2 linked regions of the Homo sapiens genome follow. The protein of the gene in region 2 interacts with the protein of the main gene of each other region in a pairwise test. Each region holds a gene or a part of one and is shown on either strand. Other genes may lie near its edges.

The links.
Region 1: the proteins of PAQR8 (region 2) and MPP1 interact in binary tests that used the Homo sapiens proteins (3 or more experiments, as listed by UniProt).

Annotation. Positions count from the first base shown.
Region 1 is NC_000023.11:154,786,169-154,795,499, forward strand, and holds part of MPP1 (55 kDa erythrocyte membrane protein), read right to left. Parts: intron 6,118-9,331; coding exon 5,974-6,117; intron 5,680-5,973; coding exon 5,601-5,679; intron 4,901-5,600; coding exon 4,815-4,900; intron 3,855-4,814; coding exon 3,786-3,854; intron 233-3,785; coding exon 36-232; intron 1-35. UniProt on the Homo sapiens protein: Essential regulator of neutrophil polarity. Regulates neutrophil polarization by regulating AKT1 phosphorylation through a mechanism that is independent of PIK3CG activity.
Region 2 is NC_000006.12:52,355,941-52,365,992, reverse strand, and holds the start of PAQR8 (membrane progestin receptor beta), read right to left. Parts: upstream 3,843-10,052; 5' UTR 3,744-3,842; intron 1-3,743. UniProt on the Homo sapiens protein: Plasma membrane progesterone (P4) receptor coupled to G proteins. Seems to act through a G(i) mediated pathway. May be involved in oocyte maturation. Also binds dehydroepiandrosterone (DHEA), pregnanolone, pregnenolone and allopregnanolone.

The sequences.
Region 1 (9,331 bases), on a different chromosome or scaffold from region 2:
CACATGGCCCTTCCACCTGCACAAAAATGGCTCACCATTCCTGCAGCTCAGGGGAAGGGATCAATCCTGCTGACTCCTTGGAGGAGCCTTCCACCCGTCCCTGCCACCAATTGCTGTCATCCTTGTTGATAATCTGGATAATGTCCCCAGTAGCAAACTTCAGTCCCGCCTCCTTGCAAGGGATCAGATTGTCCTTTTTGGGATCATAGTCAAACTGCGCTCTCATGAACATCTAAAAAGAAGGTAAAAGGAACTGCAGGCGGCAGCTTCAAAAGAAACACCAGCATCAGAGCATGTCCTGCTGTAGACAAATGGGGTCAGGATGGAATGAACAACAGGGAGGTAAGAATGGTGGGGGAGCACCCAAGAAAGAGAAATTGAAACGCTGAAGTGATTGTGTTTGCGGAGGGGTCAGAATGAATCCCTTTAACAAGAAGGCATGAGAAGCCAGGCGCAGTGGCTCACGCCTGTAATCCCAGCACTTTGGGAGGCCGAGGCGGGTGGAACACATGAGGCTAGGAGTTGGAGACCAGCCTGGCTAACATGGTGAAACTCCGTCTCTACTAAAAATACAAAAATTAGCTGGGTGTGGTGGCGTGCACCTGTAGTCCCAGCTACTCGGGAGGCTGAGGCGGGAGAATCGCTTGAACCCGGGAGGTGGAGCTTGCAGTGAGCCGAGATTGTGCCACTGCACTCCAGCCTGGGCGACAGAGTGAGACTCCGTCTCAAAAAAAAAAAAAAAAAAAAAAAAAAAGAAGGCATGAGATATCTTTCCACGTCAACGTGTCCACAGTTACTGCTGGATCTGGGTCGTCTGTCTCAGTACAGGGCAGCTACTCTTTGAACAACTGTTTTCACAATTGAAAATATGGACACTCATATCTATCAAAGAACTTGAATTTATTATTGAAAATTCTCCTCTCCTGCTCCCAAACACACACACACACACACACACACACACACACACACACACACACACCTACCTCATTACTTCATTGACAAATTTTCCAAGCATCATTTGAAGAAAGAAGGCTAATCTCATACGAAAACAGATTATAGAAAATGATGGCACTTCCCAACTCATTATAAGCATGATACCCAAATCTGACAAGAATCTTATAATTTCTCTCTGCAACAGAGATGTAAAAACCCCAAACAAAATATCAGCAAGTCAAATTTAGTTATGTATAAAAAGTATAATAAATCACAACCAAACAGGATCTAGTTCAGCAATATAAGAAGGTTTACTACCTGAAGGGCAATAAATTCACCACGTTAACATAAAAATGGAAAAAGATCATATGATCCCCTCAATAGATGCAGAAAAAGCCTGTGATAACATTCAAAACCCATTCAAGATTAAAATTCTTAGCAAACTTGGAATAGAAGGGAGGTTCTTTACTGTGAGAAAGAATACCTACAGAAACCCTACATCCAACGTCATACTTCTCAGTGAAAGATTAAAAGCTTTCCCTGCCTTTTTCAAAGGACATGGGTCTTGCTATGTTACCCAGGTTGGTCTCGAACTCCTGGGCTCAAGCAATCCACCCGCCTCGGCCTCCCAAAGTGCTAGGATTACAGGCGCATGCCACCACACCTGGCCAGCTTTCCCTTTAAGATGGAAAAATAAACAAAGATGTCTGCTATCATCACTTCCACTGGGATACTGTGAAGATGCCTCTTTTATCCAAACTGATATGTAGGTTTGACACAGGGATAAACAAACAGTCCAAAAGAAAAGAATAAAAAGTTCCAAAATAGACCTGTAAATATTACCATGACAAAAGTGACAGTGTACAGTAAATGATACTGGTTCAATTGGTATCCATATGGAAAAACTGGAATCTTGACCTCTTACCTTACAATGTATATAACAATCAATCCCAGATGGGTTGTGGATCCAAATGTGAAAAATCAAACAAGTAAGCATTTAGAAGAAAACACAGGAGAATATCTTGTTGACCTTGTGGTAAGTAAAAACTTTTAAAACAAGACATAAAAAGTGCTAATCAGAAAAAAGTGGTAGATTGGATTTCATTAAAATTAAGAGTTTCTAGTCATTAACAGGAACCATGAAGAAAATAAGCCACAGAAGAAGAGAACATACTTGGGATGCATATGACAAAGGACTCTTATCCAGAATATATGAGGAACTGCTACAAATCAGTAAGAAAAGCCTTGAATTGGTATCTTACAAAAGAGGATATCCAAGTGGAAAAAAACATATAAAAAGGAGTTTACCCTCATTAGTCATTAGAGAATTTTTAGAATCACAATGTGATACCACCATCAGGATGGCCAAAGGGTGAAAAAAAACCCAACAAATCAGACAATGCTAAGTATTGGTGAGAATACAGAACAACCAGAACTGTCATACTGTGCAGTTGGGGATGTAACATGGTTCACCAACTTTGGAATACTATTTGGCAATATCACCTAAAGATGAAGACACATATATCCTACAACCTGGCAATTCTACTCTCAAAAGAAAGGCATAGATGTATCCACAAAACACATGCACAAAAATCATATGATTTTTCTCCATTTTTCTGTTAACGTGGTGAATTTATTGCCCTTCAGGCAGTAAATCTTCTCATATTGCTGAATTAGATCCTGTTTGGTGAATGGCAGCCATTCAATGTAAGACCAAAAAAGCTGACAGAATAGATTAAATTGTAGCATGTTCATACAATGAATGAATGAGAATGAAGCAATATAGATGATTCCCATAAACATAATACTGAGCGAATAAAATAAGACACCAAAGAATTCATACTGTATAATTCAACGTTAATACATTTCAAAAGGGGGCAAAACTCATCCCTGCTGTTAGAAGTCAGGGTTATGGTGGGCCTTGAGGAAACACGCATGGTGAGGGGGCGGCGGTCTTAGGCATGGGTGTACTCAGTTTGTGAAAATTCATCCAGTTTTATACTTGTGATTTGTGCCCTTTGTTGAATATATGCCCATATATGCCAAAACTGCAATTTAAAAGTTTACTTAAGAAAATTATACCGTCACACTACAAGTAACCTGCAATAGAAACTTCAGATTTATTCTTTTAAATATCTCCTTCTTCCACATTGACTTGCCATGGCCCTGTCCAATCTATTCCTCTACTGGCTGATGAGCTATGTGTGAACTGGGAACCATTTCTCTTTATATCACCTCCATGTTCTAGCACAGTACTTTGTACATGGTAGACCCTCAATAAATTGTGAATAAGTGCTCAACAGATTCTATCTATCTTTTGTTTCTTTCTTTACTTTGCCACTATCAATCACGGGGCTTTATTATTGCTATTTTAAAAAGTATTTGCCAATTTGCTTGGTGAAAACTGGTGTCTCATGCATATTTTAATTTGCATTTCTTTGATGATCGGTAAGATAAAATATTTTTTCATATGTTCAATGCTCATTTGTAGTTTTCCTCCTGTGAATGATCTCTTCATTCCCTTTACCCATTTTCCTCTTGGAGCTGTATTGATTCCTTACCATCTGTAGAATAAAATTACCCTCTCCCTTCCTACCTGACCACTAGCAGCAAAGGCTCATTCATTCTCTACTCCTGTCGTCACTATGTTCTCCATTGAGGAAAGGGGAATGAGCTCCTGTATTTTATACCAGGCAGGGAATAATGGGACCCTGAGCCAAGCAGCTACACACTTGCGAGATACTTAGAACTTAAAGTTAGACTCACATCCCTTATAATCAAATTTCAAAGAATATAAGACAACATGGCCCGACTCCTGCCATCATGACAACAGAGAAAATGGTGCCACCCACCTGTAGTGCAGGAAGACGGCTTTGCTGGTTGGGAATTACTTTTAATGAGATCATTCCTTTGGTTTCTTTCTATTAAAAAAAATGGACATAAAATTGTACAGAAAACTAAGTTGAATGATGTGATCATTCATTCAAAGTCCCAGGTTTTTTTCCCCAACAACCATCTTTACATTTTGAGATTTTGTAGGACAATTCCTCCTTTAATACAAAAGTGTCATGTGCCCCATAAATCAGCATAACAATATGAAGACATGCAAAGAGTAACAAAGAAAAGCTAACTAAAGACTTTTCCGAGCTGGGCACGGTGGCTCACGCCTGTTGTAATCCCAGCTCTTTGGGAGGCTGAGGTGGGCGCATCGTCTGAGGTCAGGAGTTCAAGACTAGCCTGGCCAACATGGTGAAACCCTGTCTCTACTAAAAATACAAAAATTAGCCAGCGTGATGGTGGGTACCTGTAATCCCAGCTACTTGGGAGGTTGAGGCAGGAGAATCGCTTGAACCCAGGAGGCGGAGGTTGCAGTGAGCCGAGATCACGCCATTGTACTCCAGCCTGGGTGACAGAGCGAAACTCCATCTCAAAAAAAAAAAAAAAAGACTTTTCTTCCCCATTCTTTACCCCAAAAAGTCCTGAAGAAGTTCCTAAAAATGAACTATGGCGCATATATATCCACGCCTTTCCCCATACCAACAAAAGCATTACAAATATTTACATACATTATGCATACATATGTATTGTTTGTTTTTAACAAAAATGGGATTCTACTATATACGTTATAGCTTGCTTTACTTCATTTGGCATTACTTCATGGAACACCAGATTGATGCTCTGGGTTATTTGCCCTGCTTTAGAATTTTACTAAATAAAGGCAGAAAATTATCATTTCTTACACAGATTAAAGACTAGCAGTGAAAAGAGCCCCCTCAAGAAGGTACAAATACTTTGACAGAGAGATGAGGTCACTGATACCAATGTGGATCAACACTTATGGAGACAATGGAAGGTCTTCATCTAGCATAGAAAATACCCACCATCGCCTTCTGCAGCTGATCCACTGAATGATTTGTCACATTTGTGCCATTGATTTCTAGGATCTCATCCCCCACGTGAAGGGAGCCTGCCATGAAATGAAAAATCAATCCACAAAAGAACAAAAGTTCAAACAGGAGCTGTCAATGTAACTCAAGATACCATAGAAGAGAAACCAGGATTTACAGCATGTTATGAAACAGATTGTGTCAAATACTCAGGATTGAAAACATTTGACTTGACAGTTTAAGATGGTCTCATCCTCCTTGGCCTCAGTAGTCCAACAGCACAATAAAACACCTTGTCCTCAAATTCCTGGAACTAGAGTGGCTACTGACTCCAGACTATGACACAGATGTATACACTAAAAAGAATAACAAAGCAAGGCAAAGAACTCAGTACTCCTCTTTCACCAGCAAGCTCCATGTTTCTTTGTTGTTTAGCTCAAACCCCAAAATGCTACCAAGTGGTACTGCTGTCCTTTCCAAGTCTAATGCAATGGGTGGCATGTGGCAATTGCTCAAATATTAACTTACTAGAAAAATATTGGTATAAATAGGTGTGAAAGAAGGCTCAGATAGGGAGATGGTGGCACTGGGCAATTCACATAGAGATCTTATCATGTACTGATTCTACAGAGCCAGTTATTAAGCCACAAAAAGTCTCTTGGCACACTCACAAAAATGCTACCAGTTTGGAGGATTATAAGCTTCATGCCCCACACCACTGAACAGGGAGTAAATTATTAATCCCTGAATCAAACCCCACCCAGAGCTCCCACAGAGTACCTTGTCTATGGATCATGCCACCATGAAGAATTCTGGCCACCGTACAGGACTGTTTTTCATTCAGCTTCAGCGTGATTCCCTGAAATAAAGGCGACGGCACAATAAGCTTTATTTTAAGCTCTTTCTGAGGTTATTTTAGAAAGAACTTACGGTAATTTCTCAGGAAAATATTTTCCATTTATACCCAGGATAGTCCTCAACTAGAACAGGCATGAAGCCTGCTTTGAGGAGGAATTTGAGATAAGAATGAAAAGACAATTTTGGGGTTGGCCAATTCCCTAACTCCATGAGCAGCCTCTTGCATTGACTCTTCTGGCCCAGTGACTCATGGGGCAGAGAGTAACTGGTGGGCGACAATATGACGGGGGATTACCATGGGCTCTTCTGTGACCTTCTCAAACTGTATGAGTCGCACTTTCCGCACCTCCTGTCCCTTGACCTGGGCAGGGCTACCTGGGGCAGGAGACCCGTTGGTGTACATGTCCTCGGTCACAGTATTCAATGGATGCGATACAGCCTGCCAAGCCAAAACAACAAAGCAACGTATGAAATCAGGAGCAAGGCCCACAGCCAGTCCACAATCTGCAATTCTAACATTCAAGAGGCTCTGAAAACTTATTTCATAAGTTTGGCCTCATTCTTATTTGAATTGACATGAAGCTGTTTGTAAGCTTTATTTCTCCAACTTAATAGACATGTCAGCCAAGTGTGGTGGTGTGCACCTGTAGTCCCAGCTACAGTCCCAGGGCAACAGAGTGAGACCCTGTCTCTAAAAATAAATAAAATAGACATGTTTATCTAGGTTGCTGCAGAAATATTAATGTGCCTTGATTTACATGGTGCTCTCCTGGATCCTGCTTGGGGTATTACATAATATATAACAAAATTAGAAAGATTCTGAATCCTGCGGCACCTCAGGCTCCAAGGGTTTCTGGCATGTTCTCTTCTCCTTTGTATTTCCTTGAACAACCTGATGCTCTCGGTCACACAGCAATAAAGGTAATTCAGGTTAGCATCAGTTTCTCATGAATCACCCCTTAGGCTACAAAGAACTTCTACCTGTAGAATTAGGCACTTAGGACTGGGCCCCGAACCGCGGTGATAACAATAATACATTGCCACTGTGACTTCTTCCCCTGATCTCAAAGACAGCAAAGCTAAATGAGTTACTCTACCAGGCAGCAAGGCCTCTTTATTATAAATCTAAAGTAATTTAAGGCACTGTGGTAAGAAGAAAGACAAACGACCCATGTAATGGAACAGAGAGTGCAAAAACAGAGCCACACATTTATAGTCAGGTGACACTGCAGTGCAGCGGGGAAAAATGGTCTGCACGATAAATGTCATAAAAGGTCCCGAGTATAAAATGAAAACTAAAAAGACAAACACTTTAAAAGTAAGAAGTCTATTCATCAAAAAACTCCACTGAGATAAGCATAGATTTAGTAGACGAGACACGGAGCAATCATCATACAAGCAAACAACTGACTTCATCAAATTCAAACATCTTACATAAGAAACTAGACAGGTATGACACAGCCTGAGAATAAACATTTGCAATATTTACATCTGACAAAGGATTTGTATCCAGAACATATAAAGAACTCTTACAATTTAATAACAGGATGAAAAGAACCATAAACAAATCCTGAACTTGAGCCAATGATATGCATGCTGAAGCTTTCAGGGGTAAAGTGCTCTGATATCTGAAACTTATTTTGAAATACCAGGAAAAAGAAGGTGGATAGATGGGCAGTTTTTGGATAGAAATGTGATAAAGCAAACACAGCAACATGTTAACTGTAGAATCTAGGAGGTGTGGCTATATGGGTGTCACTATAAAATTCTTTCATCTTTTTGGCGCCATTCCAAGAGCAGCCAGTACTCTTTAAAAAATATTATAAAATTTAATTTTTGAACCATTTGAGAGTAATCTGAAGACTTCATTCTCCTTTACCCATAGATGTCTCTATATGTTAGGAACGAGCATTTTCAAAACTGAAAATTTAACATTGACACAATATTGTCATCTGCCAACCCTTTCAAGAATGTCCTTTATAGCTATATATTTCTTCCCCAGTCCAGAATCCAACCTAGGACTTTTTGGTCCCAGAATCCAATCTAAGACCAGAATCCAATCATGCATTTCACATTTCCTTACTCTTCCTTAATTTGGAAAATTTCCTCAGCCTTTCTTTTTCTTCTTTCATGACCTTGACATTCTTGAAGAGTACACACCTGTTATTTTGTAGATGTCTCTCAGTTTGGGGTTATCATCTGATGTTTTTTCAAGATTAGACTGGGATTTTGCATTTTTGGCAGGAATTCCAGGAAAGTAGTGGTGTGCCCTTTCCAGAACAACACTACTCTTAAAAGCCCAAACCTGAAAATAGCCCAAAAGTCCATCAACAGTAGAATGGATAAACTGAAGCATATCCAAGTGGATACCCTACATCAATGGCAATGAATGGCTACTGCTACACCACTCCATGGTAGATCACCTGTGGATCAGTCTCACAGGTGATCACTCTCTTCTCCTTAAAATGCTCCTTCTCAGTTTGCTTTGCTGTTCTTTCCTCATCTTACTGATCTGGGTAAGAGCAATCACAATGGGGAAAAACTATGGAAACCTCTGAAAATGCTCCCTGCCCACCCCAGATAAAATATTAAATCAAAAATGATATAGCCACCTGGAGGAGGAGGAGGAGGACGAGGAGGAGGAATAGGCCTGAAGTGGGCTTATGGAAGGGTCTGCTGAAAATAGGGGATAGCTGCATTCCAGTCACACCCAGAGGTGACCCTCAAAGACAGTAGGGAGGGAAGATCTTCCCAATAGGCAGAACTGTGAGGAGTGTGCCATTCACTGTGTGGGGAAGGAGAAGGGTCCCTAGATGGGAATAGATGGTATGCCTGAGCAGTGTCCACTGGCCTGCCCAAGGCCTAGAAAAGGACTAGAAGATGAGAGAGAAGGAAGTCTGGAGTAGAGGCTTACATCATTTCTAAGGGACTCTGATTTCTAAGTAGAAACTTTGATAAGATGGTGAGGTTTGGGCCAGGTGCAGTGGCTAACACCTGTAATCCCAGCACTTTGGGAGGCCAAGGTGGGGAGATCGCTTAAGCCCAGGAGTTTGAGACCAGCCTGGGCAACATGGTGAAACTCCTGCCTCTGTAAGAAATTTTAAAATTAGCTGAGTGTGGTGGTGCAAGCCTGTGGTCCCAGCTACTCAGGAGGCTGAGGCAGGGGGATTGCTTGAGCTCAGGAGTTGGAGGCAGCAGTGAGCCATGATCACACCACTACACTCCAACCTGGGCAACAGAGGAAGACCCTGTCTCAGAAAAACAAACAAACAAACAAACAAACAAAAAACATGGTGAGGTTTGAAGTAGTATTCGCTATCAGGTGACCTCAAATGAGGGAAGTACTGAGAAAGAGAAACTGCCTTCTCTAGCAACTAGAACTTCAAAAAACTCACATGACACCAAGTCATATGGCATTGCTGTTATAACAAAATTGTCTAAGATAGGCTTATATTTAAAAAATTGACTTATGATACCCGGGATACACCATGTAGGTAGGAAAAGGAGGTTCTGAGGGTGATCTTGAAGATTTATTGTTAAGCAAAAAATAATAATAATGTGATGAAGGGTATACTAGCTTCATCATAAACAGTGAAAGAATGATTATATTCATATTTGCTTAAAAATCCATAAACTGGCCAGGTTCAGTGGCT
Region 2 (10,052 bases):
TGTAGCTGTTTCGTTAGAATAATATTTTCATTGGATGAAGGGAAAAAAATTAGAGAAGAGGCTTTTAAACTTTTTTCTTTCAGATTTGCCTTACCACACCAAACTGTTATACATAATATACAATCATAACAGGAATGCTCATTTAAAAAAAAAATCTGAATTCAAAAGAAAGTAACTGGGAGCACTGACTCCACTTATTTGGAGTCTGTATTTCCTCGTTTCTGAATAAATAAAAAATAACTAATTGTCGTTGCTTTTCAGGTTACCCTTTAAAAACTCTTAAAAGACCAGGAGGGCAAAAACCAAAATGTTCTATTTGTAGTTAGTTGCAAAACCTAACTGAAGGGAATATCATTACCTGGGAAATGATAAATTTCCACATGGCTTCAAAGGAATTTTAACATAAGACTATCAATAAATAATATTCCTAACAAGAATAAGTAGACTCTGTTGAGCACTCATGATGTGTCCGGCACCGAACTCAAGTGTTCTACACGCATCAATGTTATTTCATCTTCATCACAGCCCCATGAGGTACATACTCATTAATATCTTCATTTTAAGAAAACTGAGGCCAAAAGAGATGAAACAACTTGCCCCAAACCACAGCTAGATCAAGATTCAAGCTGTGGCTGTATGAAGCTTTATGCAACACAACCTGAAAAAAAAAATGCGAATTTTAAAAAGGGATATGTTCAGTACATTTTTTACTGTGTGCCATGAAATCCCAAAGTTGAAATGAATGTTCAGAAATCATTCTCTTCCCTTTACTTCTGTGGATCCTTTCACATCAAAAATCAAGCACCAGGCATTACCTACAGCTGGGGCAAATGGCTTTCTGGGTACCTTTTTTTTTTTGGTGAGACAACAAGTCTTTTGTATTTTTGTTTTGCTTTCTGTAAAAATCCACAATGACAGAGACTGCCTAGTAACAAGTATCAGGAGGGGCAAAGAAAGGCTTACTTTTTCTAGCCCAATAAGCCATAAGCTATAACAATAAAGTGACAGGACCAATTACTTTACATACATACCAGAGCATAAACACCAAAATGAAGGTTGTGCTTCAAAGTAGTTAAGTTTTTGAGGAGTTAAATGTTGTACTCAAAATTTCCACTGTGGAGATGATGGGAGCCCCTAACCCCGGTGTTATTCAGGGACCAACTGTAATTCCTTCCAATCCTAAATACATACTCCATGCCATTACTAAATGCCCCTTTTAGAACTGCCAGTCTTTCAAGAGAATTTTCATTACTTTAATGAGCATACTTATTGACAACCTCGATTCCCCACCTCGGAAGCCCAAGTTGGCCCCGCACAGTGCCTGGCTGTTTCCCAGCTGAGGAAGGTTTGCCACCACTGAGGCAATCAGGAAATGTGTTGCAAACTCGGAAGGCAACTCCAAAGCAGGAGCTCCAAAATTATTCTCAGTAGTGACAGCATCACTAGAATTAGTACACAGCTTGCCAAGAGCAGGCTTTTGAAGGGGAGAAATACTGATTTGAATGTATAAATACTGGCATATTTATTTTAACATTTGGATAAAGAATTGGAAGCATCAGCAAGTGTTACGTCCAAGTGAATAAGTACACTGCTGCAGGAATGATAGTGCAGATTTTGATGCAAGGTCCTGACCACTCAATAAGGTATACACACACCCTTAATGGAAATATGCTTATCCTGAAATGATTCTTGTAAAATGAATAAATCGCTTTCTATCCTGTTAACTTGCATAATTATTAAAGATTTCCTTTTCATGAATTAAAAACAGACCCAACAAATGCTAGTTGCCAAAATAATCCTTGTTTATCCAATGAAGCTCAAATCTCAGTGTGTGTCAGAAGATGGACCTATATGCACCAGAAGGAAATCTGGTGCATACACACACCCGCAAAAAAAAAAAAAAAAAAAACATATCTTTCAATGGATATATCCACTTAATAAGATTCCTCTACTCTGGGTCTTCCAGAATTGGTTGTTACGCCAAATAACTGAAATAATTACCATACATAATTAACAATACAAGATGGGTTAATGTAAGATAGTCAACATTTAACTAATAATTGAAGGACACGCACCCAAGGACAAACAGCAGAAATAAAAAACAAAAACAAAAACAAAGCCATGCCTTGGTCCTTTGTTTTTAGATACACACTTGGATACTCATCCACTGAGGTCCTAAGCAGTCTGGCTCCCTTCCAGTTGACCTGGTCAAGGGTGCAGCAGCTCAGGGCTGGGTACACGTTGTGGATAACCTTAACAGGGCAGTCAAGGGCAGTCTACCTTCCATGCAGGCAACTCCTATTAACTTCAGTAACAGGAGTCTTCACTGACAAGCAAATACTCCCAAACTGTACAATACTCTCATGTTTAACTCGACTGGAATGCAGTGCGTTTGTGGACATTGTTTGGTGTGTGTATTTGTTGTGGATTTTCCTCGTTTTTACCCAGAAACAGCTTCTCAGAGTACTGGAACAAGTAGTACACACGTGGGTCTAAAAATCACACATACAGTGTATTGTATGAGTTATCCCTAAGGCGCGCACACACACGGGTAGGTATTACCTGTACATTTGAAATCTCACTCCATAACTAATTTTTTTAGCCCAGGCTCTTCTCATTGGGTTCCTGGACAAAATCATTTCTAACCCAGCTAAGAAATATGGAATGCAACTTAGGTCAAGACAATGAGCCTGCCAAGGCTCCTGGACTTCCCACTAGTCTGCCAGTGCCTGGAGCACCCACAGCTGCACAGGAAGCTGCTGTGCCCGGCTACCTCCAGGTCCCCGCACCGGGTCGGCAAGGTGCAGCAGCCCCCAAACCCAGGCTCCGAATATTCCCCAAGCGCGCTGAGTGCGAGGTCCCCACCCGCCTCCGTCTGGGGATGCCCGGTCTTGCTCCCTAGACTAGATTCCCTCTCGAGTTATCTACGACCCTGTTCCACCGAGGGCGCTGCGTTCTCATAGCCTAGACAGACGTTCCCAGCGTTCCAGCCCCACCAGCCACCTCCGACACCCCACCGCGGCGTTCCCATCCAGCCAAGCCCCAGCATCCGCCCATTAGCCAGCTGCCGGCGGTTCCCATCACAACTCCGCTCCTCGCGCCCACCCTCTCAGAGAAGCCCCCTCCATCTTTCCCCGGCGAAAGCACATGCCTAGACCCACCCTACTCTTTCCGGGGTTCCCCTACCTCGGGCTGCCCTTCCTCGGGCTCTCCCTACCGCCCCGGGCTTCCTCTCCTCCGCACTCCCCTCCCAGGTTCCGTTCCCCTCCGCCCTGCGGAGGGCGCCCCACAAATGCGGACAGGACGCCCCTCGTTCTGCCCTGTCGGACTCCCCCACGTCTTGGTCCTGAATCTCCCGCCCTCCGGGCTCAGCCTTCCCAACATCGCGGTCCCCACACCCCCGCCAGCTCTCCAGGCTCAGGCTCCATGACTCCCCAGCATCGCAGTCCTGGCCACCCCACTACAGCCGTTCAGAGCTCCAGGGCTCCCCAGCATCCTAACCCGTCGTCCCCCCTTCCGGGCTTGGATTCGGAGACTCAACATCGGGGCCCTAAACTCCGGCCCCTGGCCTCAGGTTCCCAACGCTGCGACTCTGGACCTCCCCTCTGAGCTCGGGGTGCGAGGACTCCCCAACGCCGCGATCCTGACGTCCCCGCCTCCCGAGCTCGGGCCCCGGGGCTCCCCGACCTCGCGGTCCCAATACCCAACTCGACCCGTTCCGCGCCTCCCGCGGCGGGACTCACCGGCAGGGGCGGCGGCCGAGCCCGTGCGCGTAGCCCAGCCCGGCCCAGCCCGCGCTCCCGCCTCGGGGTCCCGGCCACGAGCTTCCCGCGGGTGGCTGTGACCGCGGCGGGCTCGGCTCGGGGGAGCGGCCGGGAGGAGGAGACCGCCGGGGGCGGGTGACGCCCAGCTCCGCCCCTTCCCGACCCGGGGGCGGGATGCGCAGACCCGCGCGCTCCGCTGCAGCCCGCGCCGCTGCCGCCGCTGCGAGGAAGTTGACTGACGCCGCTTCCTTCCACCCAGGACGCAGACCCTCGCAGTCCCTGGTAGCTGCAAAAAATCCGGAGAGTTTGAGACAGAGACGCCTTAACCGCCCTCATATTCTTTCCAAGAATTCACCTCTCAGGGGGCCATTTCCGAAGTCCCTCGGGAAGGGCGGAAAACAATAACAAACTTCATCTGCGCTGTCAAGACTGATTTAAATCCTGGCCTTTCTCTCACCACTCTCGGGTGAACGTTCAGGGTCATGCCCATGATATAAATAATGTGATGACATACCACGGAGGCCCTTGCAGACACTTCCACACCCCTAAGATACACCCGCCCAAGACTCGCGCCTCTCCCATGACTACATCACACAGACACATCTGACACTGACCTGCAGAAGATCCCACTTCTACCCTGTGTCCTCAATCCACAGCCTTCGTGGGTCCCAGCAATAGCGACCCACACATACAATCTATTGGAGGCAGGGTGCGGGGGTGGGTTCCACCTCCCGACTTGCTCCTCACCCACAATGTTCTCGGTATTTTACCATGAGAAAAAGACAGTTAAGAAGTTGGATGATCAATTAACAAATCAAGTTGGCTTTGCTTTTAAAAAGCCTTCTTCATTATCTGGAGAAAAGAGAAGGCCTGGGAAGATGGCCTGCTTACTGTAAGATTTTGTCAGACAGGCCTAATTCTGGTCTGCTTACTGTAAGATTTTCTCAGACGGCCTAATTCTGGTCTGCTTACTGTAAGATTTTCTCAGGCCTAATTCTGGTCTGCTGGTTCCCAAAACTTCTCTTATACCACCGTGTTTCAGTGACATGTTGCACAACATCTCACATTTGTACAATGTTTCCATTTTTCAAAACATTTTAGCCGAGTGTGATGGTTCACACCTGTAATCCCAGAACTTTGGGAAGCCAAAGTGGGCAGATTGCTTAAGCCCAGGAGTTCGAGACCAGCCTGGGTAACAAGGTGAGACCCTGTCTCTGCAAAAAATACAAAAATTAGATGGGCGTGGTGGCACACGCCTGTAGTCCCAGCTACTTATTCTCAGGCAAACATCACGAAGCAAAGAAAGTAATCTTAGCAGGATTATTTCAGTTCCATAAATGAAGACATTTAGACTCTGAGCAGTTGCACGGCAGGTTTGAAGCTGAGTCAGAGCCAGGAAAGAGCCCAGGGGCCTGTCTTTAGAGCCACTGATCTCCCCAGGGAATCATAGTCCAGCACTTACTTATAGGTGGATACTAGTGGAAATGTCACAGGAGGTCTTTGGCAGCTTTGCTCCCTCCATCTCTTCTTCACCCCAAAGATGTCAGGGAACTCTCCCTTAACCTCAAAAACCCGGGCTCTCCTTTATCGTCAAAAACCTATGATAGGCCAGAGGTCACAACCGTACAAGAGGGCTTATTGAGAGGGAGTGAAAACTCCTTCCACTTTGGGCCACTCTAGAAACAAAATTACAGGTTAGCACATCTAAAAGCCTATCCACAGCCTTCATCCAACTAACGTGAGCTGTCAGCCGGGAGCTGATGAGCCTCCGAAATGCATTGCTGATTATTTTTGCAGTGTTTTTCTCCCTAACAGTTAATCCATGTGGAATGTGAAGAAGTCTTAAAAGGAGACTAACAAGGCTTCTAATTCTTTCTCAATGGTAAATGTTCCTTTCTTCTTGCCCTTTATCCAAAAGGCAGATGTGAACGTGCATGTAAAGTGTAATGGGTGTCAGGCATTGTTATCTGTGCATGAGGCAGTTCTGTTTCCAAGTGACGCTGTCCAGAGCCACTAAATAAGAATGGTGGTTCTCATCCTTCATGCCTTTTAAAACTACCTTGGTCTCAAGCTAGCTTCTTTTATTTTCTACTGTGAGGTAATGGCCTACTTCCGTTTGGGCAGTAAAAGTGATGTTTTGGTAACACTGGAAAAAGTCCTAGGGTGACCTGGCTATTTTTGAATTATAATAAAAGCCTGTTGGGTCCTTCATAAAAGACAGTTAGGATGGCCTTTGGTATATGGAAATTCACAGCCAACTTTCCTCTATGTAATAATCCCATCTGGCAACACAATTTTGACCTGAGATTTTTCCAAAACCTGGAAACAGCCAAGATCTTGGGTACTGCAGTATTTCCTCAATAAGGAGAATGCTAAACTGCGAATCCAATCAACACGTATCAGACCTAGTTCCCTTTCAGATTGCCCTTGAAAGCCACAGACACAGGCAGTATGCAAAATGATGAAAAAATAGATAAGATTAAAGAGTTATTTTTGTCCGAATCTCTAATAAAATAATTTGATCTATTTTACATTGGATACATACCACATTGACACTGTTTTTATAAACACTCTACTTTGTGTTTACATATCACTTTTCCAAGAAGCTCAAAGTATGTTTGATGACATCATATTACTCAACTTCATACACTTATATGAAGTAGGAAAGGGGTAAAAACTGGTAGTCTTATTGTAACATGGAGAAATGGAAGTGTGAAATAGTTAAAACCACTTGCCTGGAACATTCTGGTATATATACTGGTTTATACTAAAAGTAGACCTGTTTGTGAAAACTGCTACAGTGAAGAGTTATTTAAAAGCTGTACTATTTTTGTTTTCTTTTTATATCTTATGAAAGGACTGAGGACTATTAATTTCTTCACTATCTTGTCAGAGAAAAGGAGAGGCACTTTGCATAGTGGTTAAAAGTGTGGCCTTGGGAGTAAGAGCCTTCAGTAGGTAACTTAACTTTTCTTCTTCCTTTTTTTTTTTTTTTTTGGAGACAGTCTCACTCTGTCGCCCAGGCTGGAGTGCAGTGGCATGATCTCGGCTCACTGCAACCTTGGCCTCTCGGGGTTTTTTTTAAGTAATTCTTGTGCCTCAGCCTCTCAGGTATCGGGAATTACAGGCACACACCACCACGCCCAGCTAATTTTTTGTATTTTTAGTAGAGATGCCGTTTTGCCATGTTGGTCCCAAAGTGCTGGGATTACAGGCATGAGGCACCATGCCTGGCCAGTAACTTAACTTTTCTATACTTCAGAATCCTTATCTCTAACACAAAAATAATAATTGTACCCACATATCTTATAATGAAGGCCTGATTAAATGGGTGAAAAGACAATGACTTCATTTAAGTGGGTTTTTTTTTTTGAGACGGAGTTTCGCTCTTGTCGCCCAGGTTGGAGTGTGATGGCGCAATCTCGGCTCACTACAACCTCCACCTCCCGGGTTCAAGCAATTCTCCTGCCTCAGCCTCCTGAGTAGCTGGGATTACAGGTGCCCACCACCACACCCTGCTATTTTTTTGTATTTTTAGTAGAGACAGGGGTTTCGCCATGTTGGGCAGGCTGGTCTCGAACTCCTGACCTCAGGTGATCTGCCCTCTTCAGCCTCCCAAAGTGCTGGGATTACAGGCGTGAGCCACCGTGCCCAGCTTAGGTGGTTGTTTATGGGATCTTTGTTTCAATGCTTTCTACTTGCAGAAAAGATATACTATCCCAGTGGACTACATAGGAAGAATTTGGGGAAACTTGAATGTCTGTATTTTTTTACCGTGAAGTCAAATCCATCATTCCTTGACATTCCATGATCAGATAGCCATCCATACTTAGTTTTTCTATTTAGATCCCCTGCCAAATGGCCAACTGGGAAAAGTAACCATGATACTAATTTCACATACAGGATGCTAAAGAACTGTGGTTAGTCAGATTAAAAATAAAAATCATGATTTTCTTGTACTGTCTGTCTATTTTATCCATTTAATGGTGGAATGGTAGGGGCTCACTAAAGCTAATTTGATTTTCATTAGGAATTGCTCATGCCATTTTTTCCTTTTTGTTTACTTTTAATAATAACAATTCAGGGAGCAAATAAATTAACCCATGTAGACAAAAAAGAGATGTAGAAATTGCTCCTGGGCCCTCCGTAAGCCCTGGGCACATGTGAGGTTTTGAGGCCTTATATCTGATCTCTCATTCTCTAATGTAACTAGTTCCTAGTTGAAGAGTTTCAGATGGCAAACTATAAGAATAAATGATAAAAGGACTTAGCATTATTTTAAAAGTCTTATCTAATTTATTTATTTTAAAATTTTTAATCGATGCTAATAATGGTACATATTTATGAGGTACATGTAAATGTTGACATATGCATACAATATGTAATGATCAAATCAGGGTATTTAGAGTACCCATCACCTCAAACATCTATCTTTTTAAAAACATTTTTAAATTAATTTTTTTATTTCAATTTACTTTTTATTTTTTTGAGACAGGGTCTCACTCTGTCACCCAGGCAGGAGTGCAGTGGCACAATCACAGCTCACTGCAGCCTCAACCTTCTGGGCTCGGGTGATCCCCCCACCTCAGCCTCTCAAGTAGCTGAGACTACAGGTGCACACCACCATGCCTGACTAATTTTTTGTATTTTTTTTGTAGAGACCAGGTTTCACGATGTTGCCTAGGCTTGTCTCAAACTCCCAGGCTCAAGCGATCCTCCTGCCGTGGCCTCCCACAATGCTGGGATTATGGGCGTGAGCCACCATTATCACTTATTGGTGTTGGGAACACTTCAAATATTCTCTTCCAGCTGTTTTGAAATATATAATATATTGTTGTTAATTATAGTCACCCTACTGTACTGTTGAACACTGGAACTCACTCCTTCTACCTAACTGTGTGTTTGTACTTATTAACCAACCTCTCTTCACTTCCCCCTCCCTTTCCAGCCCCTGGTAACCATCATTCTACTCCATACCTCCATGAAATCAACTTTTTAAGTTCCCACACATGAATGAGATCATATGGTATTTGTCTGTCTGTGCCTGGTTTATTTTACTTAACATAATGACCTCCAGTTCCATCCCTTTTGGTGCAAAGGATTTCATTTTTTATGGCTGAATAGTATTAATAAAATAATATGAATTCCTACAGTCCAACAACATTTGATGTGTGTAAGTGTTCATTTTAACACCTGTTCCTAAACAAAACCCAGATTTAGGAAATACAGTGTGTAATTGGATCATGGTAATTTAACAGCAAATAAAAGTGTAGATATCAAAACACAAGGCCTTTCCTTATTCTCCAGCAGAAATTTGCAACTAAAAAGCCTTAGGGTAAATGGACTTGGTTTCCCTCCTCTTTAAAAGGTCTGACAATTTTGTTTCTTCTATCCACTTTGCTCCTGATTCTCAGTCATTTTATCCTGGGGGAGAGAGGGAGGTGGGCAATTCCTGAGCACTGGGAAAATCAGAAAGATTGAACTTCAGACTGATACCAAAAGCTTCGAGAAGTTAACATTTCTTTTCTTTTCTTTTCTTTTCTTTTTTTTTTTTGAGACAGGGTCTCACTCTCTCACCAGGCTGATGTGCAGTGGTGCGATCTCAGCTCACTACAACCTCCGCCTCCTAGGCTCAAGCAATTCTCCTCCTTTGGCCTCCCAGGCAGCTGGGATTACAGACGCCCGTCACCACACCCAGCTATTTTTTGTATTTTTAGTAGAGACGGGGTTTCACCATGTTGGCCAGGCTGGTCTTGAACTCCTGACCTCAAATGATCTACCCACCTCAGCCTCTCATAGTGCTGGGATTACAAGTGTGAGCCACTGTGCCCAACCAGAAGTAAACATTTTTTACTCTGCCCAACTTCAGTTCAATCTGGACTGTGTTCTAAAAGAAGATTTTGGAGAGAAATTTCTCAGGCTTAGGACTAGAAAAGGAAAGCCATATGAACTCACCCAGGATGAAAAACCGAGGCTTGAACCTCTGGACTTTGCCACACCCCAGCTGGTATACTGATAGCAGCCTGGAAGTGGACAACTCCCTATAGCTCACTTCAGTTTGTCACCTATCATCTAAGTTAGGCTAATGAGCGAAGGCACAGACCCTCCTCTGTTGGACAGCTGGGGGTCAAAATCCCAGGAAGTGACAGAGTGTCCCTGTCCATAGCTCTTTAGTTGAAGCCTTTCTCAGGGATACTTATCTCAGTTCTCTCTTTCTTTAAATAGGATGGGACGGTGAAAATGGCAATCTTGGACAAGATGAGTAGCAATTGCATTATTCATGCTTGA